7 linked regions of the Homo sapiens genome follow. The protein of the gene in region 2 interacts with the protein of the main gene of each other region in a pairwise test. Each region holds a gene or a part of one and is shown on either strand. Other genes may lie near its edges.

Region 1 (4,092 bases), on a different chromosome or scaffold from region 2:
GAATAGATGGGACTACAGGCGCACACTGCCATGCCCGGCTAATTTTTTGTATTTTAGTAGAGATGGGGTTTTACCATGTTGCCCAGGCTGGTCTCGAACTCCTGAGCTCAGGTAATCCGCCCTCCTCTGCCTCCCACAGTGCTGGGATTACAGGCATAAGCATGAGCAACCACGCCTGGCCCTCTTTTTTTTTTTTTTTTGAGATGGAGTCTCGCTCTGTCACCCAGGCTGGAGTGCAGTGGTGTGATCTCGGCTCACTGCAACCTCTGCCTTCCAGGTTCAAGCAATTCTCCTGCCTCAGCCTCCTGGGTAGTTGGGATTACAGGTGCCCACGACCATGCCTAGCTAATTTTTGTATTTTTAGTAGAGACGGGGTTTCACCATATTGGTCAGGCTGGTCTCCAACTCCTGACCTCAGGTGATCCACCTGCCTCAGCCTCCCAAAGTGCTGGGATTACAGGCATGAGCCACCGCGCCTGGCCTATTATTTATTTCTTTAAGGCCAAAATGCAAACAGATTCCCGCCTGCTAGTTGCTGCATGTGACCCTCAGCTGAGGGTGATGGGGTTCCTAGAGCTTGGTGGTCTCCAAGGGGAGGTGCAGGAGGACTCCAGGAGTCCCATTCGCACCCCATGGTGGGGGCAGGTTGTTAGGAAGAAAGACAACTTAACTCTGCTTCGAATTTTTTTTAGAGAGTCTCGCTTTGTCGCCTAGGCTGGAGTGCAGTGGCGCGATCGTGGCTCGCTGCAGCCTTGAACTCCTGGCCTCAAGGCATCCTCCTCAACCTCCCAAGTCGCGGGGACTATAGGCATGTGCCACCATGCCTGGATAATGTTTTTATTTTTTGTAGAGATGTGGTCTTGCCATGTTGCCCAGGTTGGTTTTGAACTCCTGGGCTCAAGCCATCCTCCCATCTCAGCTTCCCAAGTACCTGGGACCACAGGCACATGCCACCATGCCCAGCTAGTTTTTTAAAAAATCATTTTTTGTAGAGACGAGGTCTCCTTGTGTTGCCTGGTCTCAAACTCTTGGATTGCCTCAAGTGATCCTCCCGCCTCAGCCTCCCAAAGTGCTGGGATTACAGTGTGAGCCACTGTGCCCAGCCTGCTTTCAATTCTGAAATCCAAGGGAGAAATATAAGCTGGCAAACAAAAGTTTTAGCCATCCCAATTTTGGGCTGTACTAATCATATCCAGGATAGAGACTCGAAGCTAAAAGTTACCTTTTCTTTCACTCTCGTAATCCAGGAAAGTTCTAATTGGGACAAGCCTCTGGAGCTGCCTAGTGTGGGTGTCTGCTGGAAACTTCTAAAATGTCTCGGCCTATTTAATTGGAGAATTCACTGAAGAATTAAAGGACTCAGTAAAGAAGAGGTTTGGTTTGTTCATGAAAGTAAGTAGCTTGTGAAATGCTTTATTTTCCTGTGACTAAAATTCCACCTTGTAATTCCCAATAAGGATTGCTTCAAGCTATTTAATACAAATTAAACCTGTTTCACCATGCTCATAGGAAAATGTCAAAGTATCTTCATTCACCAACTGAGGGCTGGCTCTTCTTTGAAGGTAGCTCTGAGATTTGTTTTGTAATGGAGACAAAGACTTATTTAACTGTTGGGGAGGGGGAAGGAGGACTTAGGCCAGGCAGGCGGGGATGTGGGGGACGAACCATGAGGGGCAATTTGGCTGCCTCTGAAAAGGTCCAGAGCTACCTTAAAAGACAGGCTTTCTATAACAAGTGGTCCTTTCTTTTCCTTTCTTTTTTTTTTTGAGACAGAGTCTCACTCTGTTGCCCAAGCTGGAGTGCAGTGGTGCGATCTCAGCTCACTGCAACCTCCAGCTCCCAGGTTCAAGCAATTCTCCTGCCTCAGCCTCCCAAGTAGCTGGGATTACAGGCAACCGCTACCATGCCCAGCTAATTTTTTGTATTTTTAATAGAGATGGGGTTTCACCATGTTGGCCAGGGTGGTCTCAAACTCCTGACCTCAAGTGATCCACCCACCTCAGCCTCCCAAAGTGCTGGGATTACAGACATGAGCCACCGCGCCCAGACACAGCTGGCTTTGTCGCCCAGGCTGGAAGTGCAGTGGCACGATCTCGGCTCACTGCAAGCTCTGCCTCCTGGGTTCACGCCATTCTCCTGCCTCAGCTTCCCAAGTAGCTGAGACTACAGGCGCCCGCCACCACGCCCGGCTAATTTTTTGTATTTTTAGTGGAGATGGTGTTTCACCATGTTAGCCAGGATGGTCTTGATCTCCTGACCTCGTGATCCGCCTGTCTTGGCCTCCCAAAGTGCTGGGATGACAGGCGTGAGCCACCACGCCTGGCTTACAAGTGGCCCTTTCTAAGCCCCAAGATGTCACTGTCTTTTCACTGAAGGCGGAAAAAGAATGTAGGCATGTTTGTCTGAGAGGGAGGGAGTAGTTTTAGGAGAAAGGACCAAGAGCACATTTTGAGTGGGAAGTAAGTGGTTTCCTTTTCTAGCCTTATGATATGGTTTGGCTCTGTGTCCCCACCCAAATCTCATGGTGAACTGTAATCCCCAGTGGTGGAGGTGAGGCCTGGCGGGAGGGACTGGATCATGGGGGTGATCCTTCATGAATGGTTTAGCACCATCCTCTTGGTGCTACTCTAGTGATAGCGTTCTCACAAGATCTGATGGGTGAAAAGTGTGTGTCTCTTGTTTTTGCTCCTGCCATGCAAGACGCCTACTCCCACTTCACCTTCTGCTATGAGTCAAATTCCCTGAGGCCTCCCCAGAAGCAGAAGCTTCCTGTACAGCCTTGTGGGCCACGAGCCAATTAAACCTCTTTTCTTTATAAATTACCAGGTCTCAGGGATTTCTTTATAGCAGACTAATACACCTCAAAGTAGGGATTTATTTTATTATTCTATTTTTTTTTTGAGATAGGGTCTCGATCTGTCACCCAGGCTGGAGTGCAGTGGCATGATCTCAGCTTGCTGTAACCTCTGCCTCCCGGGTTGAAGCAATTCTCATGCCTAAGCCACCCAAGTAGCTGGAATTACAGGTGTGTGCCACCCTGCTCAGCTAATTTTTGTATCTTTAGTAGAGTTGGGGTTTCTCCATGTTGGCCAGGCTGGTATCAAACTCCTGGACTCAAGCAATCTGCCCACCTTGGCCTCCCCAGAGTGCCAGGATTACAGGCATGACCCATCTTGCCTGGTCAGTTTTTTTTTTTTTAAATCCAGTTAATGCTGGGTGCCATGACTCACACCTGTAATGCCAGTGCTTTGGGAGGCCGAGGTGGGAAGATCACTTGAGGCCAGGAGTTTGAGACCAGCCTGGGAAACATCTCATCTCTACCAAAAAACAAAAACAAAACAAAACAACAACAACATCAAACATAGCCAGGTGTGGTGGTGCACACCTGTAGTCCCAGCTCCTTGGGAGGCTGAGGCAGGAGGATTGCTTGAGCCCAGGAGTTCAAGGCTGCAGTGAACTATGATTGCACCACTGCATTCCAGCCTGGGCAACAGAGCAAGAACCTATCTCTATTTAAGAAAAAATGCTCCTAAGAAATCATCTTAGTACTTGGTAAGCTATTAAGGTTTTTTTTAAGTGTATTAATTACATAGCCAGTATAATAACTTAGTTGCTAAGAGCTTTGAGGTGGCTCCAAGCAAGAAGAAAGGAGTTGTTGTTAAGCTACAGCTCAGAGTCTCAGAATGAACTGTTTCCATCTTCGCTGTCCTTTGCTTAACTGTGGGATAAATATAATTTTCTCAACATTCAACACATGTGTCCTTAATCGTCCTCTACGACACTGGTTCCATGTTGCCAAGAGAACCCAGAACAGCCGCAAACACCTACTGGATTGTTACTGGCCTTTCCTGAGAGGATGACCCGGGCTTTGACCTTGTTCATGTTGAAGTTCTTCAAGTAGGCCTCGTAGATTCTCTTGGCCAGAGATTTGAGATCTGCAGTTTCAGAATCTTCTATGTCATGTTCACAGGTAAGAATTTCTGCTTTCAGTTTTGCTTTCTCAGATCTTGGCATTCGTCCAAAACGAATCGCTAGGGTTTGGAGGGGGAAACACAGGCATGAGCAGTGAGGTCATGACTGCGCGGACAGGGC
Region 2 (4,092 bases):
TCCCTTTCCCAGTTCTAAGGCTTGGGTAAGTGCCACTAGTTCTGCTAACTGGGTGCTGGTCCCTGGGGGAAGAGGCTTAGTTTCAAGTACTGTTACTATGGCATAACCTGCCCTTCGTATCCCATTCTCCACAAATGAACTTTCATCGGTATATAGGTTAAGGTCAGGATTAGCTAAGGGGACTTCTAAGAGATCATCTTGGGTGGCATAAGTCTGGACTATAACCTGTTGGTAGCCATGCTTGACCAGCTCCTCATCCTCTGGTAGAAAAGTGGCAGGGCTGAGGGCCACACATGTATGCACTTGAAGCACTGGTCCCTCAAGGAGTAGCGCCTGGTATCTAAGCAGGCGGTTGTCTGATAACCATAAACTTCCTTTGGCACCTAGTATGCCATTTACATTGTGAGTAGTCCAGACAGTGAGATCCTTTCCTTGTATTATTTTGATAGCCTCTGACACTAAGACAGCCACCGCCACAACTACCTGTAAACAGTGAGGCCAGACTTTTGCTACTATATCAATTTCCTTACTTAGGTATGTCACTGATTGTGGGGTTGTCCCATGAGTCTGAGTAAGGACCCCAAGAGCTATTCCTGCTCTCTTTGTGATGTATAAAGAAAAGTTTTGTCCTGTGGGAAGGCTTAAGGATGGACCTTGAGTTTGTTCCTTCCAATGCCCAGACTTCAGGGTTGATTCCCTCCTCAAGCAGGGGACAACAAATGGGTAACTTGTTCCCCATATTCATAGATAATAGCTCCAGCTTTGGCTAATATGTCCCTCCCTAATAAGGGTGTGGGACTTTCAGACACAACAAGAAAGGCATGTGAAAAGAGCAAAGTCTCCCAGTTACAACTGAGGAGGTGGGAGAAATACCTGGTTACAGGCCATCCCAGGATTCCTCAGATGGTAACGGACCTTGAGGACAGCTGTCCAGGACAGGAGATTAACACTGAGAAGGCCATGCCAGTGTCCAGGAGGAAATCAATTTCCTGGCCCTCAATGGTTAAACATACCCGGGGCTCAGTGAGGGTGATGACATGAGCTGGCACTTGCCCCGGGCATCCTCAGTCCTGTTGTTGGATCATCTGGTTGGGGGCTTCTGGCCCAGAGAACCATTGTACTCTGGGGCAGTGAGCCTTCCAGTGATTGCCTCCGCATAGTGGACATGGGTGAGGGAGCAGCTTATTTCTAGTAGGACAATCTTTTTTAAAGTGTCCTTGCAAACCATACTGAATACAAGCCCTACCAGGTGATTGACCTGCTCTATTTTCTGTCCTCTCTGAACCACCAAGGTTTGTTTGTCTGAGGGCCATGACTAAGGCTGTGGCCTTTCTCTGATCTTGCTTTTCTTTTTGGGCCTGTTTCTCTTGGTCCCTATTATAGAACACCGAGGTTGCCAGGTTTAATAATGCCTCCAGATTTTGTTCAGGGCGCAAGGCTCGCTTTTGGAGCTTTCTCCTGATATCTGTGGCTGATTAGGTAATAAACTTATCTTTTAGAATCAATTGACCCTCGAGTGGGTCGGGTGACAGGAGAGTATATTTTCTTAAGGCCTCCCATAGCTGTTCGAGGAAGGCAGAAGGATTTTCTTCCTTTCCCTGAGTTACGGTGGACATCATTGAATAATTCACAGGCTTTTTCCTAATTCTCCTTAGTCCTTCTAAAACACAGGTCAACAGATGTTTGCAACTCCAGTCCCCATGATCTGAGTCGAGGTCCCAGTGGGGATCCATACTGGGGATGGCTTGCTGACCAGTAGGGAATTTGCCCCTTTCTTCGACTGTCATTCTATCATTTACTTGACTAAGATACCAGGTATCTCCAAACTCTCGGGCTGCAACTAAAGCCACATTCTTTTCATTAAAGGCCAGAGTTTGACCTAATAGCATGATATCTCTCCAAGTGAGGTCAAAGGTTTGCCCTAGACCCTGTAAGACATCTATATACCTAACAGGATCATCTGAAAACTTCCCCAGATCTGCCTTGATCTGCTTTAAATCAGAGAGGGAGAAGGGGACATGTACCCGGGTTGGGCCAAATTCCCCTCCCCCTACAGCTTGAAGGGGACATAAATGATAGCTCAGGGGTTTTTGTGGTCCTTTGGAGATTTCTTTGTTTGTTTCCTTCTGGGTGGGGGAGATTAGAGGAGGCTTATCATTAATAGGAAGGGGAGCTATAGGGAGGCTAGGATATGGAGGTAAGCTGAGAGGTCCTCCTGTGGGATGTAAATTGCAAGTTTTGCATAGTTGTGTATTCTCCTTCAATGAAAAGAAAGCTTGGACATAAGGTATTTCACTCCATTTGCCTTCCTTCTTACAGAAAAAGTCAAGCTGCAGGATAGGATTGTACTTTATACTTCCTTCAGGTGGCCATCTTTCCCATCAGAGAGAGAATATTGGGGCCAGGCCATAGTGCAGAAAAAAGTTAGCTGCCTCTTTTTCAGGGTTTGCAGGTCAAATTGGTCCCAATGGCTTAGGATGCATTTCAAGGGTGAGCCTGTTGATGCCTGAGTGTTTCCCATCTGAAAGACAAAACCACCCTTGGTCTTGGTTTGTTTCTACCCCTCCCCAAGAACCCACAATAGTCCCTGGACCCTGCTGATTGGAATAGTTGCACTTACTGATGCAGCAACAGAAACACCTCTTGCCCAAGAACCCGCAACGGTCCCTGGACCCTGCTGATCAGAATAGTTGTGCTCACCGACGCAGCATCAGAAACACTAGTTTTCCTCTTAGACCAAAAAGAGGACCGAGGAAGGTCAGATTTAGTGGCCCTTACTGATGCATTCTCAAAAACCTGCATTCTTGCCTGTCCTCTTAGACCACAAAGAGGACCAAGAAAAATTGGATTTAGTGGCCCTTACCGATGCATTCTCAAAAAGCTGTTAGAGTCCTAAGCATTATCCTGTTAGTATTGGGACCTTACCACTGTCCTATAAAGATGTTATGCCCCAAAAATGAACTGGACGGACATACCCTGAGAGAGGGAAAGGATCTCCAGAGTTGGAAGAGTGATGCTTTTTGTCCTCACTTATATGAATAGGAAAGATACCATTTCCGAAGCTCCCCATATCCTAGCTTCAGGAATAGCTTTTGTTAGGCCTGCTTGTCTGAAGAGGGATCCTAAAATTCCAGATAGTCCCTTGCCCAGATGGGACTTTGGGCAAAAATTATGTCTTTCTGATTGGTGAGCCCGGGTGCCTAAAGAAGGTAAAAGAGTCCTGAAGTTTATACTAGAAATCATTCTTATAGGAGAAACTAGAAAAGCACCAGAGACAGGGAGTGCTTTTTAGAAGTGGACTAGCCTCAGAGAAGAGAGGCGAGAGGAAGTTTGTCTGACAGGCATTAGGACCCAGGAGGCAAGGGTCAGGAGATAGGATAGATGGGCAAGTCTCGCTTGGGTGACATGATTTTGAGAGTTCCACTCATGGCCGCAGGGTCAACCAACTTGTTGTTGGGACCCCGGAGCTGAATGGCTTTCCTCTCTGTCAACCCTCGGCTCAGCCTGGAAGTACCATTAAAGTGGAAGCTGGCTCCAGGCAAACCAACATTCCCAACTCCATAGAGTCAGGGATTGTTAGAGAGCCCTATCCCAGAAAGCCTGGCACCTGTGTCTTTAGTCCAGCGGCCGCGCTAGTTGCTTTTAGCTGACCGACAGGTGCCCAGTATTTACCCCCAGAATTCTAAGGAAAAACAGGACAGAATAGCAAGCAAAAGGGGTCTGATGGTACTCATCACTTGGCAATAGGCGAGAGTCCCATCTGGGTTGCCAAAATGTGTCCAGAATTGGTTGCTTCTGGTGGGTTCTTGGTCTCGCTGACTTCAAGAATGAAGCCGCAGACCCCACGGTGACTGTTACCACTCTTAAAGATGGTGTGTCTGGAGTTTATTCCTTCAGATGTTCATATGTGTCCGGAGTTACTCCCTTCCGGTGGGTTCGTGGTCTTGCTGACTTCAGGAGTGAAGCCACAGACCTTCACAGTGAGTGTTACGGCTCTTAAAGGCAGCACGTCTGGAGTTGTTTGTTCCTCCCAGTGGGTTCATGATCTGGCTGACTTCAGGAATGAAGCCACAGACCCTCACGGTGAGTGTT
Region 3 (4,092 bases), on a different chromosome or scaffold from region 2:
TCAAGTAAGCTCTTTATTAGATGGAGTTGTGACCATGACAAGCAGGGGTGCTGAAGGATCAGTTTCTAAAGTAAATAAAAGTTTTGGTGAAGAATCAAAAATAATGGTGGAAGATAAAGTTTCTTTTGAAAATATGACTGTTGGAGAAGAAAGTAAGCAAGAACAGTTGATTTTGGATCACTTACCATCTGTAACAAAGGAATCATCACTTAGAGCAACTCAACCAAGTGAAAATGATAAACTTCAGAAAGAACTCAATGTACTTAAATCAGAACAGGTATGTTTACTTCTTCATATATGGTAAAGCACAATGAAAAAAATGTACATTTCACACTAAGGTTTCACCTTCATAGAACATAAGTTCATATCCTTACAAGAGAATGAAAATGAACCCTCTGATGTAATTTTAACTTGAGCCTATCATTTATTTATCATTTAAGTACTTTTTTTTTTAAACCATTGTTGCCTTTCTTTCAGTTAATCTATCTTGTATATTCTGCTCAGGAAATAAAACACTAATGGATTCAGATTTTCTTTGGAAAGACAAGAGTTTGTATAACTTTATGGAGAATCTCAGCATTAGAAAAGTTATTAATTTCATTTTGTAATTTTTGTTATAATCTCAAAGATTGGTTTCAGCGTTTTTATTTCATAGTGATGTTTTCAAGTCTCTACAACTGAAAATGAACTCCTAAGCTTTTTAATAGTCTCTATAGTTGTTAGGTGGTTATGAAATTATATTTTCCTGGGAGAAAAAAAAACCTTTGATTTAAGTCCTAGAGTTTTTTCAGAGTCTTTATTATACCTGAAGGGGAAAAAACAGTATTAACTCTAAATATAGTTAAAGAATTATATGTATATAATAATAGATCACTCCTGATAATTTATATTTGCCAGATACTGATATTAAAATAACAGGAAAATTCTGCTATCTACAATGTAATGGTGCTAACTAAAGTTTTATGTGTTTCTTCATTTTTCTAACATATTTATTGACTCTCTTGGCAAGTACGAATATAGTGGCCAACAAGAGAGAGGTTTCTGGTCTCAAAGAGCATATATTTTAGTGAGGGAGGCAGATGATAAATGAAACAAGTAGGATAGTGAGAAATAGTGATAAATTCTCTGAAGAAATAAAACAGGATAATGTGATAGGGAATGATGGAATTATTTCTGAGGGCTCTGTTCTGTTCCATTGGTCTATATCTCTGTTTTGGTACCAGTACCATGCTGTTTTGGTTACTGTAGCCTTGTAGTATAGTTTGAAGTCAGGTAGCGTGATGCCTCCAGCTTTGTTCTCTTGGCTTAGGATTGACTTGGCAATGTGGGCTCTTTTTTGGTTCCTTATGAACTTTAAAGTAGTTTTTTCCAATTCTGTGAAGAAAGTCATTTCTGTGAAGAAAGTCATTCCTGATGGGAATGGCATTGAATCTATAAATTACCTTGGGCAGTATGGCCATTTTCACAATATTGATTCTTCCTATCCATGAGCATGGAATGTTCTTCCATTTGTTTGTATCCTCTTTTATTTCGTTGAGCAGTCGTTTGTAGTTCTCCTTGAAGAGGCCCTTCATATCCCTTGTAAGTTGGATTCCTAGGTATTTTATTCTCATTGAAGCAATTGTGAATGGGAGTTCACTCATGATTTGGCTCTCTGTTCGTCTGTTGTTGGTGTATAAGAATGCTTGTGATTTTTGCACATTGATTTTGTATCCTGAGACTTTGCTGAAGTTGCTTATCAGCTTAAGGAGATTTTGGGCTGAGACGATGGGGTTTTCTAGATATACAATCACGTCATCTGCAAACAGGGACAATTTGACTTCCTCTTTTCCTAATTGAATACCCTTTATTTCTTTCTCCTGCCTGATTTCCCTGGCCAGAACTTCCAACACTATGTTGAATAGGAGTGGTGAGAGAGGGCATCCCTGTCTTGTGCCAGTTTTCAAAGGGAATGCTTCCGGTTTTTGTCCATTCAGTATGATATTGGCTGTGGGTTTGTCATAAATAGCTCTTACTATTTTGAGATATGCCCCATCAGTACCTAATTTATTGAGAGTTTTTAGCATGAAGTGCTGTTGAATTTTGTCCAAGGCCTTTTCTGCATCTATTGAGATAATCATGTGGTTTTTGTCTTTGGTTCTGTTTATATGCTGGATTACACTTACTGATTTGCGTATGTTGAACCAGCCTTGCATCCCAGGGATGAAGCCCACTTGATCATGGTGGATGAGCTTTCTGATGTGCTGCTGCATTTGGTTTGCCAGTATTTTATTGAGGATTTTTGCATCGATGTTCATCAGGATATTGGGAATGTTGGAGAGGGTAGTAACAACATTAAATATGGTGGTCAGGAAACATCTCTAGGAGGAATTGACATTTGAGCTGAAATCTGAATGACATTGAAATTAGAGCAATTGTAAAGACACGGGTAAGTTTAAAGAACAGAATGAAGGCTTGTGTAGTTGAGTTTGAGAGAGCGGGAGAGTGGAAGAAGAGTTTGAAGGAGGAAGAGACCAGACCTTGGAGAATCTTGCAGACTTTGGAAGCCATTGGAAAGTTTTCTCTTTTTATTCCTAAATATATCATATTTATGATCTTATATCAAATGTCGAGATATTTTATATTTATGATTTATATCAAATGTAGAGATATTTTATATATTTACTTGCCTAAATAGAGTCAAGAAATTCGAATTGCTTAACGATTTTTTTGTTTGTTTGTTTTTGAGACCGAGTCTCACTCTGTCACCCGGGCTGGAGTGCAGTGGCGTGATCTCAGCTCACTACAACCTCCGCCTCCCGGGTTCAATCAATTCTCCTGCCTCAGCCTCCTGAGTAGCTGGGATTACAGGCATGCACCACCACCACGCCTGGGTAATTTTTGTATTTTTAGTAGAGACAAGGTTTCACCATGTTGGCCAGTTTGGTCTCAAACTCCTGACCTTAGGTGATCCAACAGCCTCGGCCTCCCAAAGTGCTGGGATTACAGGCGTGAGCCACCATGCCTGGCCAAATTGCTTAACTGTTAATGTTCTGTTAAATGTCTGGAATTGTTTTCAAAACCAAAATGTATGGCAGTTACTTGTGAAAATGTCACACATCTTTTAAAATTTTTTAGGAAGCATTTTTGGGAGAAGACCTGAATTTGACCCTCAGATGGTCAAATTTTCTTATTAGGAATTCTAATTTTCTTTTTCTTTTTCTTTTTTTTTTGAGACAGGCTCTCACTGCCGTCCAGGCTAGAGTCTCATGGCGCAATCACAGCATCCTGCAGCCTTGACCTCCTGGACTCAGGTGATCCTCTCACCTCAGCCTCCTGAGTAGCTAGTATTACAGGCATGCACCACACACCCAGCTAGGTTTTTGTATTTTTTGTAGAGACAGGGATTTGCCATGTTGCCCAGGCTGGTCTCAAACTTCTGGGCTTAAATGATCTTCTTGCCTTGGCCTCCTGAAATGCTGGGATTACAGGCATGAGTCTTTGTCACCAGCCAGAATTCTATTTTCTGTACTAAAGAGATACTAAAAAGATACTTTTGATGGCATTCAGATTCCCTCTATTTGACATTGACTACATAAAGTAAAGCCTGTAAACTTCCTGCCCGTTCATCATTACCAAGACAAACCTTTATTGATGGGAAGGGAAGTTCACAGAAGAAATCGAGCAGTGACTTACACAATAGTAACACCTAAGAGCAGCCTAAATATGCTTGAAATAATGTGGATGCCACACAGATATCTCTAATACACTTAGGTAGTTTGGGCAGAAGGAGAAAAATAAAAACATCATAGAAGTCTTTTCAGTGTTGGGATGCAAGGAAGAAGGAAGAGTGGCAGGAATTTTTTAGATACTGATTAATTATTGATGCTGGGAGAGGTCATAGATTGAAGTGTATGTGTTTAAAATTGAAGATGATTATTAGAATCAAAAGAGATACCGGAGCTTAGAAACTACAGGAGGAACCACTAGAATATCAGCTCCTTGAGAACAGGGACCCAGTCTCCTGTATCTCTAATGCCTAGAATAATGTCTGACACATGATAGGCAGTTAATAATTTTTTTAAATGAATGAATGAATTCATGAATAAAAGG
Region 4 (4,092 bases), on a different chromosome or scaffold from region 2:
GGTGGCACACACCTGTAATCCCACTTACTTGAGAGGCTGAGGCAGGAGAATCGCTTGAACCCGAGGAGACGGAGGTTGCAGTGAGCCGAGATTGTGCCACCGCACTCCAGCCTGGGCATAGAGCGAGACTCCATCTCAAAAAAAAAAAAAAAAAAAAAAAGAAAAGCTGACTTTGTTCATTTTGGCAAGGTTGTTTCTATATTTGAATAATATATGTTTACTATCATTCTTTTATCTGTATGGCTTGTGTATTTATCTGTAATATTTTGGTGGCCTATAAATTCATATTATCTGTCAAGAAAAGTTCCCATTTGTTTTCATTCTTCAATGAAAAAGAGTAATCAAGATCCAATAAGCTTGATGCTCACCCACACCCACCCCATAAATAGCTTACTGAGAGATTCAGAAAAAATAATCCATTAAGCTTCTAATGAAGGTTTTCATCCACAAATTCTGGAAATCAAGGAATTGCAGAACTTTGATTATGACTGCTTAGGTTAACGAATGTTATTAAGTCTAAAGCTGATTATTCCAAGAATATAAATATGTGAATTATTTTAATAGTAATGGCAGGTTGTGTTTTCAAATGCTTAAGTTTCTTTTTTTCCAACTGTCCATTTTTATTTAAATCTACATATTGAGCTCTCAAGCTTTTGTCTTTAAACACTTTAAGAACATTACAACTGTTTTTATGTCCAATATCCAATTACCAGAAATGGCATTATAGAAAAGATACACAGGCCGGGTGCGGTGGCTCACGCCTGAGATCCCAGCACTTTGGGAGGCAGAGGTGGGCGGATCACCTGAGGTCAGGAGTTCGAGACCATCCTGGCCAACATGGTGAAACCCTGTCTCTACTAAAAATACAAAAAATTAGCTGGGCTTGGTGGCGGGTGCCTGTAATCCCAGCTACTCGGGAGGCTGAGGCAGGAAAATCGCTTGAACTCGGGAGGCAGAGGTTGCAGTGAGCCGAGATCGTACCACCGCACTCCAGCCTGGGCAACAAGAGCGAAACAAAAAAAAAAAAAAAAGAAAAGAAAAGACACACAACAGGTTTTTAATGTTTTTATTATGAGAGCACTTGATAGTTTGTTTAGTAGTCTTACTCTACTAGTCAGGGGAGCCAGGTGGCTCACTCTAATAGAAAAATAAAGTTTTCTCCTAATTTATTGTCTATTCCCACTTGCATTGCTGCCTTTTACTGCTAATTTACTTCCTCAGGAGAAGTAGGGTATTTATCTTCATATATTTGTAGACATGCACAAGATACCTGAAGTCCAACATTTGTCTCAGAATTGTATAATTTAAACTTGTTGAATGTCATCTGAGATGGAAATAAATCATCTTATAGGCCATATTAATCATCTGATTTATAAACTCCAGAGGTTTTAGCATCATATTTATTATATTTCATTACTATCATAGTTTGCCAATAATATGCTTGTTCTCTCAGAGAAAAAAAATCAAAACTTTTAATAATTTGTATTGATCAGACTAGGAATTCAATTGTAGGGTAAAATCAATGTTAAAATGTGAAGATAAAATAATGTAACTATGTATAGGCTTATTTTAATAAATGAGAAAAAACTGTAAAGTTGCTATCTAAAACTTTGAGGAAATGTGAACTACAAATACCTAGAATATTTAATACAAAAGCTACCCTCTGTTCCCATGACTGTGGAACTCTTAGCACAGGGCATACAGATAACAACAGTCTTTTAAAAGCCTAAATGAACAGTCTTCCTTCCTTTAAGGTAATTTCCTGCGTCTTATCTGTCACATATAGAACAATGTACTTTCATAATCAAACCCTGCTACTCTGGGTCTACTTGTGGTTTCTTACAGTTCCACGGATTCTGAAGCATCCTTACTTTACCCTCACACAAAACTTCACCCCTAAGAGATGTGTTCTCAACATTTCCAGGGGTGTGAAGTTTTTTTTGTTGTTGTTGTTAACTACCATTTTGTTAACATTCTATTTCACTTACTATAATCAGAAGGATTTCTTTAATTATTTTTGGACTTACCGAACTCAATCTGCTTGGCCCTGGACAAAAAGTGGCTCACAGGCCATATTACACAGACACAGAGGTGCATTTAATCCAGTGTGCTACTGACACCTCACATTCAGAGCAGAGGGCCATGACCCTGCCACCCGCCATCTCACTCTTTTTTTTCCCTTTCCTGATCCCTCCTACTTTCTGAACGATTAGTCACCTTGCTCCCCAGAATTGCTTCATTCCTGGGATTCCTTTTTGTCAAAGGAAGAATTTATGCAGAATTTGAACAATGTCTAACTTTTTTTTAACAGTAGCGCCTAGTAACTACCTTTCTTTTGCTACCCTGAGCCAATTTTCAATTCTCTCTCCAGAATTCACTTTTTTTTTTTTTTTTGAGATGGAGTCTCACTCCATCGCCCAGGCTGGAGGCAGTGGCATGATCTTGGCTCACTGAAACCTCTGACTCCCAGGTTCAAGCAATTCTCCTGCCTCAGGCTCCCTAGTAGCTGGGATTACAGGTATGCACCACCACACCTGGCTAATTTGTTTTTTATTTTTAGTAGACACAGGGTTTCACCATGTTGGCCAGGCTGATCTCAAACTCCTGACCTCAGGTAATCCACCCGTCTCGGCCTCCTAAAATGGTGAGACTACAGGCATGAGTCACTGCGCCCAGCCCAGAATTCACTTTGATCACAGATATTGAAAAGCAGCTTCACCAAGGAAATCACCTAAGATAATAGTGTGCCTCAAGTTTTGTGGTGGATTTCCAAAGAGGTTGTAAATATAATTGCATTAGGAGATTGTTCACTGTCCTTTATAAGTAGTAAATACAATTTAAAACACAATTTTCTCTCCACTCAGATACCTGGGGTGGGGGCGGGGGGGGGGGGAGAACTGTGTAGCAAGTAGTACTTTTAAGGCAAGTGTAATAAATAGGATATGGATGCTTTTAATTTTTCCCTTTGCCAATACTTGCAATTCTTAAATGTCTTCTATTTTAGAAAAATATTTTAACTATTAGCTACAATACAGACTTACTTCACAATGCTGCTATACACCTCTGAAGGCCCCTTCCCAAAGAGTTACAGCCAACTTTAAAATGTTCAGCACAGTTAAAAATAACACCAAAAGTCACTGAGTGATTTACAATGAAAACCACCCAGCTATACTAAGGCATTGGAAAGAAGACAAAGGGTTAAAGACTCTTGCAAGATACTTATCAACAAATCAGCCACATTTATCTCATCTCTGCTTTCAGCAGGTTATCCGCTGTCTCAACCTTACAGGTTTGTCAACAACTCAGAATTCTCCAGGGCCCTGGAGCTAATAGCAGTTAACATCAGGGTCTTTTCTTCCTGGAATTTCTTGTGTTGATACAGGATTTTTTCCAGACCAGCACTGTTTCAACAATTGCTTGTCTGTTTCAACTTGAGAGACAGGATAGTAACATGGAAATAATAAAAATTATACTCAGAACCACCACGAGCCCCCAGACCTTTTCAAAGAAGTTTAATTAAACAATACATACGAACCACCCCTGGTAATTGTTTCATGGCATGCTAATGTTAAATTCCTTTGAAGCTGATTTCCTTTTTGAGTCTTAGAAAGCTGAGGCTTTAAAGTAAGTAGGTGTTGTTTGCTGCCTTATCTCTCTGTCTGATTTGTACTTCTGTGTAGGCTGCAGAGTGTATTTCAGCTTACTGGAAAGCTGCTGTTGCAATCAAAATATTTCAAACGCTTTGTTCCTTAGTTGGAACAGCCAGTCAAGTAGTTGACCCAAGCATTATAGCAGAAGGACCAAGATAGTGCCCTTTGTTCTACCATATCAACTCTGTGAACTGTGAAATATTCATTCTGTTCCCTCCTAGAATGATCTTTCTCCAGTCACCTCCCTATGTCCAGTCCTACTGAATTTTTGAGATCTACCTCCAGGAAGCTTTTCAAAATTTCCTGCCACCAGGAGTAACTTACTTTTTTTTTTTTTTTTTTTTTTTTTGAGATGGCGTTTCGCTCTTGTTGCTCAGGCTGGAGTGCAATGGCGAGATCTCCGCTCACTGCAACTTCTACCTCCCGGGTTCAAGCGATTCTC
Region 5 (4,656 bases), on a different chromosome or scaffold from region 2:
AGCTGCCAGAACTGCTGGAGCCACTGTAGCTACTGAAACCGCTGGAGTCACCCTTCCCAGTGAGGCAGGGGTCGTTAGGGGAGGTGATACGCGTGGGGTCCTTACAAGGGTCTGAGAAGGTGCCAATGCTCTTAGCCAAGGTCCCTGTGGAGGAAAGCAGTGGTTAGTAAGGGCCAAGGAGGCTTGGCTTCCTCCCTCACCTTTCTGCCTTATCTCAGTCATCGGCCTCTCGGGTTTCTCCCAAGCAGAGCGCAGGGAGAGTTTAGGGATGGAGAAAGGAGGAAGAACTGGCTATTGTCTCTAAAGGATATTGAGGTGGCCGAATAAAGGCATTTCTTTGTTTGGGAAGGGTGGGCAAACACCAACCAGAAAAATAGAAAATTAGGTGCCAAAGTGAGTGGCCTCAAAGGAATACATTGAATATAAGAGGGGGCTGGGCACAGTGGCTCACGCCGGTAATCCCAGCACTTTGGGAGGCCGAGGTGGGAGGATTGCATGCGCCCCAGAGTTCAAGACCAGCCTGGGCAACATAGACCCCGTCTGTATTTTGTTTTTTAATTAAAATTTTTTTTAAAAAGAAGAGGGAATGGAGAAGGGGCAGGAACAAGTAGGTCTAAAAGAAAGGACCCTGAAGAGACAGAGAATTGGGGAAACTGAGGCTCTGAGGAGTCCAGGCGTAAATTCTTAGGGGAAAAATCCTGGGCCAGACAGTGGGACCAAAGGGAAGAAGACAAAAGGCAAAACAATGGAGGGCTGAGAAGTGGAGACACATATAGAAGGAGACACTGGAAAAAGACAAAGCTGGGGGCAGAGGGGCTGAAATAAAGGAAAGGGCACTCGAGGACTAAGATTTGGTCACCAGCTTCTTCGTGAGAGCCCAGGCTGGGGTCAGGAATGGAAACCCTATTTCCTATCTCAGCACTGGCCATGCCAGTAAAGCTGGGTGGGGGCCAGGATGTGGGGTCACTACCTGTTGCTTCAGAACCTGCTGGTACCAGTGTGTCAGGACACCGCACCCTGAGCCAGCCCTGCTCTCGCTGGCCCAGCCCAGGGAACCAGGACGAAACCCCACGAACCTCCGAGGCTCCTGGCCACAATCAGCTTCCCTCTCTGAGCACACCTGCCTCTGTCCAGCCCCTCATCTGACTTCTGCTGCCTTGACTTCCCTCAGGGATGTGGAGCCACATCTTTCCTTATCTTTCCTTTCCTTTGCTCAAAACCCCAGGCCCAACTTACCCCGTGGTTCCTCCATGACTCTTTCACCTGCGTTCCTTCTGCCTTCCCTAGCCCCTCCAGGTCCCACGTGTTACAAACAGAGCCACATACTAGCAAGTTACTGAACCTCTCTGAGCTTTAGTTTATACATTCAGAGGGGCCAAATTTTCCCTGCCTTCCCACAGCATTACTATGAAGAAAACTAAATGAGATCATCCACCTGGAAGTTTTTTCTTCTTCTTCTTTTTTTTTTTTTTTTTTGTGAGATGGAGTTTCTTGTTGCCCAGGCTAAAGTGCAATAACACGGTCTCAGCTCACTGTAACCTCTGCCTCCTTGGTGCAAGCGATTCTCCTGCCTCAGCCTCCCAAGTAGCTGGGACCACAGGTGCCCGCCACCACACCCAGCTAATTTTTTGTATTTTTAGTAGAGAGGGGGTTTCACCATCTTGGCCAGGCTGGTCTTGAACTCCTAACCTCAGGCGATTCACCTGCCTTGGCCTCCTGAAATGTTGGGATTACAGGCACAAGCTATCATGTGCGGCCAGATGTTTTAGAAAGTGTAAAGCATTATATATTATGAATTATTACTGCCACTCATCCTGATCCCTCCACCAACAACCAGACTGCCATCCTCTGTGATGTCCCTGTTCTCTCCTCAGAAAGAAATTCTCTGCATGCACCTCCACGCCGAACCCCAGCTGTGCCAATTCCCTTCAGTCCTCTGCACGAATCCACCATGCATTGCCTCTCTCTTTCGCTATTCCCTCAGACACCAACCACCCACTAGACCATGGGAAGGTCGCAGAAATTCCTCAAGGGCTATAAGTACCCGGTGGTCAACAACACAGGTCCAGGGGTTGCCCGGCCTGGGGTTGAAATCTTGGCTTTGCTGCCTTCTAATGCATGATCTTGAGCTACTTTCCTAACTTCTCTGAGCCTCAGTGTCCTCATCTGTAGAGTGGAAATAGCAAATCTCCTTTCATACCGTTCTTGTAATGATCAAAAGTGCTAATATAGGCCGGGTGTGGTGGCTCATGCCTGTAATCCCAGCACCTTGGGAGGCTGAGGCGAGCGGATCACTTGAGTCAGGAGTTCAAGACCAGCTTGACCAAAATGGTGAAACCCTGTTTCTACTAAAAATACAAAAAAAAGAAAATTAGCCAGGTGTGGTGATGGGCACCTGTAGTCCCAGCTACTCTAGAGGCTGAGGCATGAGAGTCGCTTGAACCTGAGAGGTGGAAGTTGCAGTGAGCCGAGATTACGCCACTGCACTCCAGCCTTGGAGACAGAGTGGGACTCCATCTCACAAAAAAAAATAAAAATAAAAGTTCTAATATATAATCCAAATGTGCTTAAAACAGAGTCTAGCATATAAAAAGGCTCTAAAAATGATATTATTACTATTAAATGTCCAATCATTATCTTGTAGTGCTCCCATAATAAAAATCACCACCACCATTTATATAAACCTCTAGAATTTCCAAAGTACATATCACATACATTATTTAATTTGAGACACACAGACTAGAGTTAGGTGTCATTAACCCCACTTCAGAGTTTCAGAAACTGGGGCTCAGGAAGTTTAAGAAACTTACCTGAGGCGACCATACAGTGAGGAGCAACCCCCAGACTCAAAAGGCAGATTCCAGAGCCCCTGCCTGTCCCCTTCGCTGGGTCCTCTCCCGGAGTCTCCCTCCCGCCTCCCTCCTGTTCCCAGGGCCCCCAGCCTCCTACCTGGCAGGAGGAGACCAGCCAGCAGCAGTGCCATCATCCCGTGCCCACCCACACGCCCCATCCAGGGTGCCCGAGACGAGCCCATCTCGGACTGCACGGCCTCCTGACTGATGGCAGCTCAAGGACACCCGGGTCCTTTATGCCAGAGCTGGACATTCCCTGGGCAGGAGTCACTGTGGGGAGAGGAGGAGAGGTGGAGGGGGTGGGTGCCCCAGGGGAAGTTGGTGTGGCCGGGAGGAGCGTGGTAATCAGCCCGGTGCATCTGCCTACTCAGCAGCAGCAGTGGCTGCAGTGTGGGGTACCCATGGCCACGGGGCTCTAACGATCCTGCCACCTGACAGGCCTGGCCCCGGCTCCTCATTGCCTAACCCGGAACCAGGCGCTCTGCCCCACGGCCACCCACTCTGGGGCGGCCACTCTTGCCACGGGACCCAGCTGCCTGGCTCCTTAACTCTCCTGCCTACCGTAGCTTGGCCTGTCTCTCCATCTGCCCTCCACTCGCAGTCGTGGGTGTTTCAGCTTTTTCTTCCACACTTGGGTGCCCGCTCCAGCCCCACCCACCCAACCCCAATGAGGTCCCATTCACAGCCCCTGATCTGCTCCTTCCTTAGGACCCCATCACTCCACCTCCACTTTCCTCCTTCAAATATGAGTTCTGCCCCCATCCCCCAGGCTCCCCCTCCCACCACTCCCCAAGTACCAGGCCAGCCACATACCTATTACGTGTTCCATCACCTGGGGAACTTTCTCCTTCTCAGAAATGGGGCACCACATTCCCAAAACCAACTCCCTGACCTGTCGCTTCTGGGGGCCTCTGGGGACGGCATGGTGGCGGGGGTGGGGGGGTGCTGGGAGCCAGGGCTCAGCCAGGGGAGGGGCCTGGGCTGATGACCTCTGTCAAAGCTGGGCCTTGGTTACTCACAGGGCACTCACAGCCCCTCCCCATGGCTGGTAACCCAGACCTCAAGGGTGAGCAAGAGGCTAAGAAGGCTAATTGGGAAGGTGGTGGCCCCATAGCCCATCTGCTGGCCCTGGGCTGGATGAGCGAGCAGGAAGCAGCAGCCAGCTCTGGGCAGGTCGAGGAGGGCCAGGCAGGCTCCCGGGTCCTCAAAGGATGAAAGGAGGCCAGGAGAACCGGAGCCCTGCCATCTGCTGAGAGGGTGGTGGCTTCTCCTCCATTGCGTTGGCCTCCCTCCTGCTCTGGCCCCTGCCCCGCCCCAGCCAATTAATTGCTCACTAGTATTGCGGGAGTATCAGTATCGGAGGGAGGTGCCTGGGAGTCCAGCAAGCTGCCCTCTCCTCCCCCAGGCCTCAGACACCCCTGCTCCCCTCACCCAAACTCACTTCCCAAACCTCATCTCCTCACAAAGGCAGCTCTGTCCCTGGGCCCCTTGGCCTGGTCTCTCCCATTCCCTCTACCTCCTGACCGCCCTTTAAGTTCAGACCAGCAGGAGGATGGAAATGTTTCCTGTCTGTGCTGTCCGATACGGTAGCCACTGGCCACATGGAGCAAGTTTAACCACCAAAGATTTGGAGCTTTAATTTTAATTAATTGTAATGATGTGGTTGGCCACGTGCAGCTAGTGGCTGCCATCTAGTCTTGCTCTTGACTTGCTAGTGACACTCAGAATGGGAGTGGGAGGAAAGAGGGGCTGAGGGAGCTGTGGAGAGAGGAAGGGATAGGACAGGGTCCCCTGAAGGGGGCTA
Region 6 (4,092 bases), on a different chromosome or scaffold from region 2:
GCAGAAGAATGGCATGAACCCAGGAGGTGGAGCTTGCAGTGAGCTGAGATAGCACCACTGCACTCCAGCCAGAGCAACAGAGTGAGACTCTGTCTAAAAAAAAAAAAAAAAAAAAAAAGACCTGGATTACCCTCTGCTGTTTCCCTAAATTACTTTGGTGGCCTCAAAAGGAAAGCAACTTCTGAAGAAAAGGTCTTAGAGTTCACAATTTAACTGCAATGTTGCTTCCATCAAATAAGGTTTTCAGTGAGACAGAATTATGAAAAGCAATACTAATAAACACTTGTATACAAAGAGTATCTACAGAGATACACAACCAGTAGCAGTGATTGCCTCTGGGGAGAACTCAAGAGATAGGAATGACAAGGAAATTTACTTTTCACTGAACACCCTTTTCAACTATTTCAATTCTTTTTTATCATGAGCATGTTATATCTAGTCAAAGATTAATGTTTCAGGATTTGAAAAACATAAAAGAAATGTACTGTTGGTCCTCAGAGTCATTTAGCTGGGGTTAAGATTAAAAGACATGAGACTATTAGAAAAATATAAGATGGCACATAATTAAATACTAACTTGGGTGGTACTGATTACAAGTAGAAGAGGAAGAGAGATCTTCTTAGTTGAAGGAGCTAGATCTGAGTGATGAAGGGAAACTAAAAGCACAGGAAAATAAGCAAATAAAAATGGGCAGAGACATAAATATGTACAATTAAGTAAAGAACAGTAAACTCTGCAGTCAGATAGGCCTGGCTCCAATTTCAACTCTATAACTTACTAACTGAGCAACCCTGAATGAGTTTTATAACCTCTTTCAACTCAGATTTCTCATTTGTAAAATGGGGAGAAGAGCACCTACCTTAATAGGATTGTTATGCAAATTAATGTATGTAAAGTGGTTAGCACCTGATACAGAGTAGCTGCCCAACTAAATGATGCCTTGTTAAAACATCATAGAACAGAGGGACCAGTCTTGCTAGAGTACATGGTAAATGTTCAAAAGGGCAAGATAATACTGGCTATTTAAGTTAAGGGTTACAGCAAATTGTGAATGGTCATCTCATTTTGTCTCTAGGGTTCCTGCAGCATAAGAATTATAAACAAGTATCACCATTATGCACTCTCTAATGTTCAAGAAGGTGAGAGATCTGACAGTTATAGGGTTTGTCTCTAGCATGGCGCCTCTGGTGCTTAATTAAGACAGAATTCTGACTGAAGGCCTTCCCACAGTCATTACATTTATAGGGTCTTTCCCCAGTATGGATTCTTTGATGTCGAATAAGATGTGCCTTGCAAAAGAAGCTTTTCCCACAGTCAGTACATTCATGAGGCTTGTCCCCAGTGTGGACCCTCTGGTGCTGAGAAAGATCTGAGTTCCACATGAAGCCCTTCCCACAGTCCTTACATTCGTAAGGCTTCTCCCCAGTGTGCATTCTCTGATGTCGAAGAAGGGCTGGGTTTCGAGTAAAGCTTTTCCCACATTCCTTACATGTGTATGGTTTCTCACCAGTGTGGATCCGTTGATGTTGCGTAAGGCTTGTGTTCTGACTAAAGCCCTTCCCACATTCCTTACATTCAAAGGGTTTCTCTCCAGTATGTATTCTCTGGTGACGAATCAGGTTTGACTTCCAAACAAAGGCCTTAGCACATTCTTGACATTCATAGGGTTTCACCCCACTGTGAATTCTCTGATGTGCAATGCAATGTGATCGAAAACTGAAAGCCTTCCCACATTCCTTACATCCATAGACCTTCTCTCCATTATGAGTTTTCTGGTGTTGATCAAAGTCCTCATTTTGATCAAAACACTTGCCGCATTCCTCACATATATAGAATATTTGCTCATTTAGAATTTTGTGATGTATACCAAGGAGGTTATTGACATCAGTATTCCCTGAACTCTCTTCTACTGAGATCATCTCATCCTTGACAATCACTTCTATAATATCATTTGTAGAACTTTCCATACGTCCCCCATTGAGGTAACCAGGCCATCTCCCTAACCTGCTTTTCTCTTCACAGGTTTTCCCAAACCATAATTCCTGGGATCCACACCACTGGGGTCCACTTGATAGGACCATGAGGTCCTGTGCTTCCTCAATAATTTCCTCCTTCAGAATAAAATCTTCTTTCTTCCTCTTCAACACACCCTCTGAAAAAAGAAATTGGAGCTTCAAATGTCATCATTATCCATGACACAGCGACTAAGGTCACCAAGTGGTATTAATACGTCCACTTCTCTCCAAGTGCCACCCATGTCTCAGTGGCCCTGTCCCAGCTGAAAATGGCAAAAACAAGGCTAATACACAGAAAGAAACCAAAAGTAAAGACAGCAACTAGATAGAATCCCTGCGGGCTATGATTCCTGGCACCAAACCAAGGACCAGGGTAGGCTCTCAGAAAACAGGTGAATTGAATCTAAGGAAAACAAAGTCAGAATTCCTCCTAGGTAGCTGAGTACAGTTTATACCATGAGAAGAACAGGCCAGGACTTAGGGCAGAGGACCTGTTCAGAAATAAGGAATCCTTAGTGGTATACCTGAGAACCTGGGCTTGTCACATGCAGCAGACAGTAGCAAGAATGAGCTTCCTCATACTTTTCAACACTAAAAGGAAGTATAGTCTTCTCTTTCAATCCAAGCACCAAGTTCACCATGAAACCATGGGAAGTGCTTTCTCAAACTACTCCAGGCAGAACTCGGAAAAGACTCCCTCCTCTTTGTTCTCATAGTGTCTTATTCACATTCTGTTACAGTTTCATCATTTTTCTGTAATTATACATTTATGTATCATGTCCCATGAGACTGTGAGTCCTTCCAGGATAAGGGCCATATATGACTTGATTTTTTTTATCTCTAACAACTAACACAATGAGTAAAATACAGCATCTACATTAAAAATATTGGGTGATCATAGCAGCTAGATGGGGCAGGCCATCTGTTCAGTTTAAGTCTAACGCAAAAGACCCATCCTAATTTAATTAATTTAATTAATTGAGCTTGTCCTAATGAAAGTTGGAAGCTTAGGGTTTAAGTTTTCTCTTAATTGGTTGATTTAAGGATCTGGTCCCCATATTTGTTTAGAACATGAATGGCAAAATGGACTTTTACATCTTATAAAAGAAAGATAGGAAAAGATGTGACTGAGAGAAGAATGCTCATTTCCCTCTCACTTACCCGGACAAATCAGGCTTGGACCCTCTCCTTGCAGTTTCAGGTTTAATGGCTCTTCCACCTGCTCAGGATGGGAAATCCCAGCAGGCTTTAGAAATGGATATCCTGCCAGGGTCAAGATACAAATAAGGCTGACTCAGTCAGAAGAGTGAGGCCCATCAGGAAAAGAGCAGACATGGAAGTGGTAGGGAGAGAATAAAGGTGGGTGAAAAGATTGGTAACATAGATAAGCAGAAATTTGATGGTACAGAATAATAAGGATAGGCTGGGCGTGGTGGCTCACACCTGTATTCCCAGCACTTTGGGAGGCCGAGGTGGGTGGATCACCTGAGGTCAGGAGTTCAAGACTAGCCTGGCCAACATGGTGAAACCCCATCTCCATTAAAAATACAAAAAAAATTAGCCAAGCATGGTGGCACACACCTGTGGTCACAGCTCCTCAGGAGGCTGAGGCAGGAGAATCGCTTGAACCCGGGAGGCAGAGGTTGCAGTGAGCCGAGACTGTGTCACTGCTCTCCAGCCTGGGCGACAGAGTGAGACTGTGTCTCAAAAAATATATATATATATATTTATATATATAAAAAATATATATATATATTTATATATATAAAATATATATATATTTATATATATAAAAAATATATATATATATTTATATATATATAAAATATATAAATATATATTTTATAGAAAAATATTTGTATTTTATATAAATATATTTATATATAAAATATGTATTTATATATATATTTATATTAAATATATAAATATATGTATTTATATATTAAATATACAAATATATAATATATAAATATATATTAAATATATAAAAATATATATTATAACATATAATATATAATATACAAAAATATTATATATATATTAATATATATAATATATAATATATAAATATATATTA
Region 7 (3,470 bases), on a different chromosome or scaffold from region 2:
TATTGACTAATTCTATAGGAAATTTAATTTTGACATAACAATGGAAATTAGCTTCTGAGTGAGTAAGAGCCTTAAGAGGCCAGAATCCTTGCCTATTCTTAATATTTTTTTTTTTTTGGAGATTCTAATAACGTATAGGTTATAAGATTGTAAAACCCTGGCTGTGTGTGTTAGGTCTAGTAATACATCTCAATAATCGGGAAAGATACATTAGGTAGAGATCACTGAAAATAGAGAGCCTGGAAAAGTATTTAATCACAATGGTCTGTATGAAAGCAGGAGAGTCATGTTTTCTAGATTGCTTTATACTTAAGCTTCCAATATCCTATTTTAGACTTAAAATGTGCTATATACGGGTAGTAGTTTCCAACTGTTACATCTCACAGCTCTTAATAGTTTCATGAAAATTATACTTGGACTCAAATGAAAGAATGTAGGCTTTGGCATGAAATTGATCCATAATCATCTCTAGCAGGTATATTCTATAAATTCAACAGTTAAATAATTCAGGGTAAAATCACTTCATGCGTATCACCCCGTAGCCATTCTGAATCAAGAGAAACCATATTTCCCTTGGAGGTTTTCCCTACAACATTGATCTTGAAGGCTCCATATTAAAGTTTGATTTGATTGCTTTCCATATGTTGAATATTAATAAGGATTATATATTTTTCTCAAGCAGTTTTATTACCACTATATTTAATTTTGTTGAGAGTATATAATTACTTCTTCAAGGTATGTTAGAAAATGCCATATTCCTAAAATTCTGAATTCCTTCATCCCACACCTGCCTATCATTATTGTCATTTGCTGTCACCACCCACTTCAGGATGGTCTCTTGCTTCTTGTTCTCTTCCTATTCTCTGCATGGGAACTGAGGCAGAGGCTGACTACCTGAGGTTCTTCATGTTCCTCAGCCACCTTCTACCACCTCACCCTTTCCTTGGATCTAGTTAATCTTTTAGATTATTTGCCTGTGTTGCCAGAGACTTCTGTTGATGGGAAAGGAGAAAAGCCAGCATGGTCGGAGGGTCAGAACTATATGGAGGGGAAACTGGGTGAATTCTGAGCCCACTCTGGCCTGAGTTAAAATCTTCTAAAGGCAGATCAGTATCTTGTTTGAGCCCAAAAGAGTCCTTTGATAATTTACCATGTTATTATGCTTATTGTACACATTTCCTCTTTCTCTCAGCAAACCTAGAGTACTATACATACATTATTGATTTATCTTTATCATGTTCAAATGAAAGGCCTGGTGAGTGAATTGCCTTAACAGACTTTACAAAATGAAAAATTATTAATGTGATATATTAGTGAAGTGCAGAAGCTTCACTTAAAAAGTAGAGCTGTTAGCTTTCCTAAAGAGATACTAGAAGAAAACCACAGTAGAATTTTATCCTGAGCCATTTCATGATATGACCTGCAGCCTGCACAAGTCAGTAACTATCTTGTCTGAACTGTTTATCTTTCAGGATAGCAGTGGCAGCTCCGAGTTACAAGAAATTATGAGAAGACGACAGGAAAAAATCAGTGCTGCCGCTAGTGATTCAGGAGTGGAATCTTTTGATGAAGGAAGCAGTCACTAATTTGTTTGTTTGTATTTAAACTCCATTGTTTTTGGCATTATTCCAACATGCTTTGTTTTAAGAAGCCTTGAAGGGAATGTCAGATTCATTTTTCTTGATGTAATTTATCACCATAAAAAAAAACCCATGCAAACCTGAGTGAGCACAGGATTTGCTTCTAGGCCCATTATTTTTATTAAAACTGAAAAAATTTAAACTGAATTTTTTGACCTTGGAAAATATTTTTCTTACTTTACCAAGGTGAAGTTTCCTTAATTAGACTAATTATTTTATCCCCATCCCAGGGTATAAACAGGAATTGTTTTGATAGTGGTGGAGTTATTCACTGCAACAAAGCAACAATGTTGTCCATGATTCAAAATCTAAGCAGTTTCGATTTTGCCTGTGAATATGGTGTCTGTCATTCAGGGCATAGCTCACTGTAGGCTAGCCTCTGCTTACTTAAGTCTCTTCTCTGACATACTCAATGGAAGAATATTTAGATTTATTTAAAGTTCTTAATGCCAACAGTTTAAAAAAAAATTAAAACATTTGAATGAACTGTAAAGTACAGCCATACCTTGGACATGCAAATATAAATCTATGGAGCATTCTCAAGAGAGTTTGTCATGGCTCTGTTGATTGCAACTCCTTGTATAGCTTGTATTTTGATTTAGTTTATATTCTGCTTATTATGTATACTGTGTTCTTATATATGAGAAAGCACAAATGCGAAAGAGGTCATGTCTTCTCAAAATCTAGCAAAGGAAGTAGTCTGCATTGGTGTGCATTACAGTATTTTGCTTAATGAAAGCCTCAGTTCTGAATGTTGATATGAGTAGTTAAAAGGAAGTGGGGCCATTTTATGTGTTTATCTGTGTCAAGTATTTCTGGTAATAAGAAGCACTTAATTTACACATATTTTAATCCTGTGAAAGATTCCACATAGAGAAAAGAAAGATACCTAACCTTCAACAAATGTTATTTTTGGAAACACAATTTTTGTCATTAAATGTTATATTATTTCACATATATAAAACAGATGTTATGTAAGAATGTTGTATATTTTAACATAAATCATTTAGAGAAATTATCTAGATTCATTAATTTTCATAGTGCCTTTTTCACATGAGTCAGCTGGAAAGTCTGCAATAAACAGTATTTGCTGTCTGTTAATAAATGGTTTCTGTCTCATTAGCAAAAAGGATCTGTGCTAGATCGGCTGAGGATTCGAGTTGAATGCAATGGGAAAAAGTAGAGATCCACATTTTAAAAAAACTATATATTATTCTATTTCTGAGTGGGTAGAGAAACTCTAGAATACTTTTTTCGGTTGTTTTTCTTCTTTTCGCCTCTTGTTTCATCATCTTTTCCTTCTACCATCTAGTCATATTTGGTAATGGTAATGGAACTAATTTACACTGCGCTTACGATTGCTAAATGCTTCCATATAAATGCTTTCCTGGATATTTACAACAACTCTATATGAATTATTACAGATGAGGAGATTTAGCTTCCTAGAAGCTAATTTTCCCCAGATCCTGAAGGATGTGGGAGTTTCTCATCTTCTATCTCTCGGTCTCTCTATAACACTGCCCTTTGGATAAAGTGGAACAAACATGAGCATGATAAAGGTGAATTAGTTTAGATCTTTTACATTTCATAAGGACTGATACATATGTATAATTTAGCCTTTATTGAAAGGGATAAGATGAAAGAAAATAAGATCCAAAAGTTAAGATAACCTGCGTGTAAAATAGCAGACGGATATGAAAAGAATTGGTGTAATTTACATCTTTATGCTATAAGATGCCAAAGGAATGTATCACAGAGGTAGTAATTGCAGAAAGCAGTCACATCAGCTAAGGATGTGGGGACAAAGAGAAGAGGTTCCTGGAATTTAGA

The links.
Region 1: the proteins of CTNNA3 (region 2) and PPARA interact in a two-hybrid assay, tested with the Homo sapiens proteins (one large-scale study listed by BioGRID).
Region 3: the proteins of CTNNA3 (region 2) and AKAP9 interact in a two-hybrid assay, tested with the Homo sapiens proteins (one large-scale study listed by BioGRID).
Region 4: the proteins of CTNNA3 (region 2) and PKP2 interact in a two-hybrid assay, tested with the Homo sapiens proteins (one study listed by IntAct).
Region 5: the proteins of CTNNA3 (region 2) and CDSN interact in a two-hybrid assay, tested with the Homo sapiens proteins (one large-scale study listed by BioGRID).
Region 6: the proteins of CTNNA3 (region 2) and ZNF662 interact in binary tests that used the Homo sapiens proteins (3 or more experiments, as listed by UniProt).
Region 7: the proteins of CTNNA3 (region 2) and EPS8 interact in a two-hybrid assay, tested with the Homo sapiens proteins (one large-scale study listed by BioGRID and IntAct).

What each region holds. Positions count from the first base shown.
Region 1 is NC_000022.11:46,219,751-46,223,842, reverse strand, and holds part of PPARA (peroxisome proliferator-activated receptor alpha), read right to left. Parts: intron 4,032-4,092; coding exon 3,829-4,031; intron 1-3,828. UniProt on the Homo sapiens protein: Ligand-activated transcription factor. Key regulator of lipid metabolism. Activated by the endogenous ligand 1-palmitoyl-2-oleoyl-sn-glycerol-3-phosphocholine (16:0/18:1-GPC). Activated by oleylethanolamide, a naturally occurring lipid that regulates satiety.
Region 2 is NC_000010.11:67,686,196-67,690,287, forward strand, and holds part of CTNNA3 (catenin alpha-3), read right to left. Parts: intron 1-4,092. UniProt on the Homo sapiens protein: May be involved in formation of stretch-resistant cell-cell adhesion complexes.
Region 3 is NC_000007.14:92,002,959-92,007,050, forward strand, and holds part of AKAP9 (A-kinase anchor protein 9), read left to right. Parts: coding exon 1-277; intron 278-4,092. UniProt on the Homo sapiens protein: Scaffolding protein that assembles several protein kinases and phosphatases on the centrosome and Golgi apparatus. Required to maintain the integrity of the Golgi apparatus. Required for microtubule nucleation at the cis-side of the Golgi apparatus.
Region 4 is NC_000012.12:32,889,938-32,894,029, forward strand, and holds part of PKP2 (plakophilin-2), read right to left. Parts: intron 1-4,092. UniProt on the Homo sapiens protein: A component of desmosome cell-cell junctions which are required for positive regulation of cellular adhesion.
Region 5 is NC_000006.12:31,117,386-31,122,041, forward strand, and holds the start of CDSN (corneodesmosin precursor), read right to left. Parts: upstream 3,062-4,656; 5' UTR 3,035-3,061; coding exon 2,950-3,034; intron 145-2,949; coding exon 1-144. UniProt on the Homo sapiens protein: Important for the epidermal barrier integrity.
Region 6 is NC_000003.12:42,912,387-42,916,478, reverse strand, and holds part of ZNF662 (zinc finger protein 662), read right to left. Parts: intron 3,279-4,092; coding exon 3,177-3,278; intron 2,153-3,176; coding exon 1,125-2,152; 3' UTR 1-1,124. UniProt on the Homo sapiens protein: May be involved in transcriptional regulation.
Region 7 is NC_000012.12:15,619,433-15,622,902, reverse strand, and holds the end of EPS8 (epidermal growth factor receptor kinase substrate 8), read left to right. Parts: intron 1-1,472; coding exon 1,473-1,586; 3' UTR 1,587-2,769; downstream 2,770-3,470. UniProt on the Homo sapiens protein: Signaling adapter that controls various cellular protrusions by regulating actin cytoskeleton dynamics and architecture. Depending on its association with other signal transducers, can regulate different processes.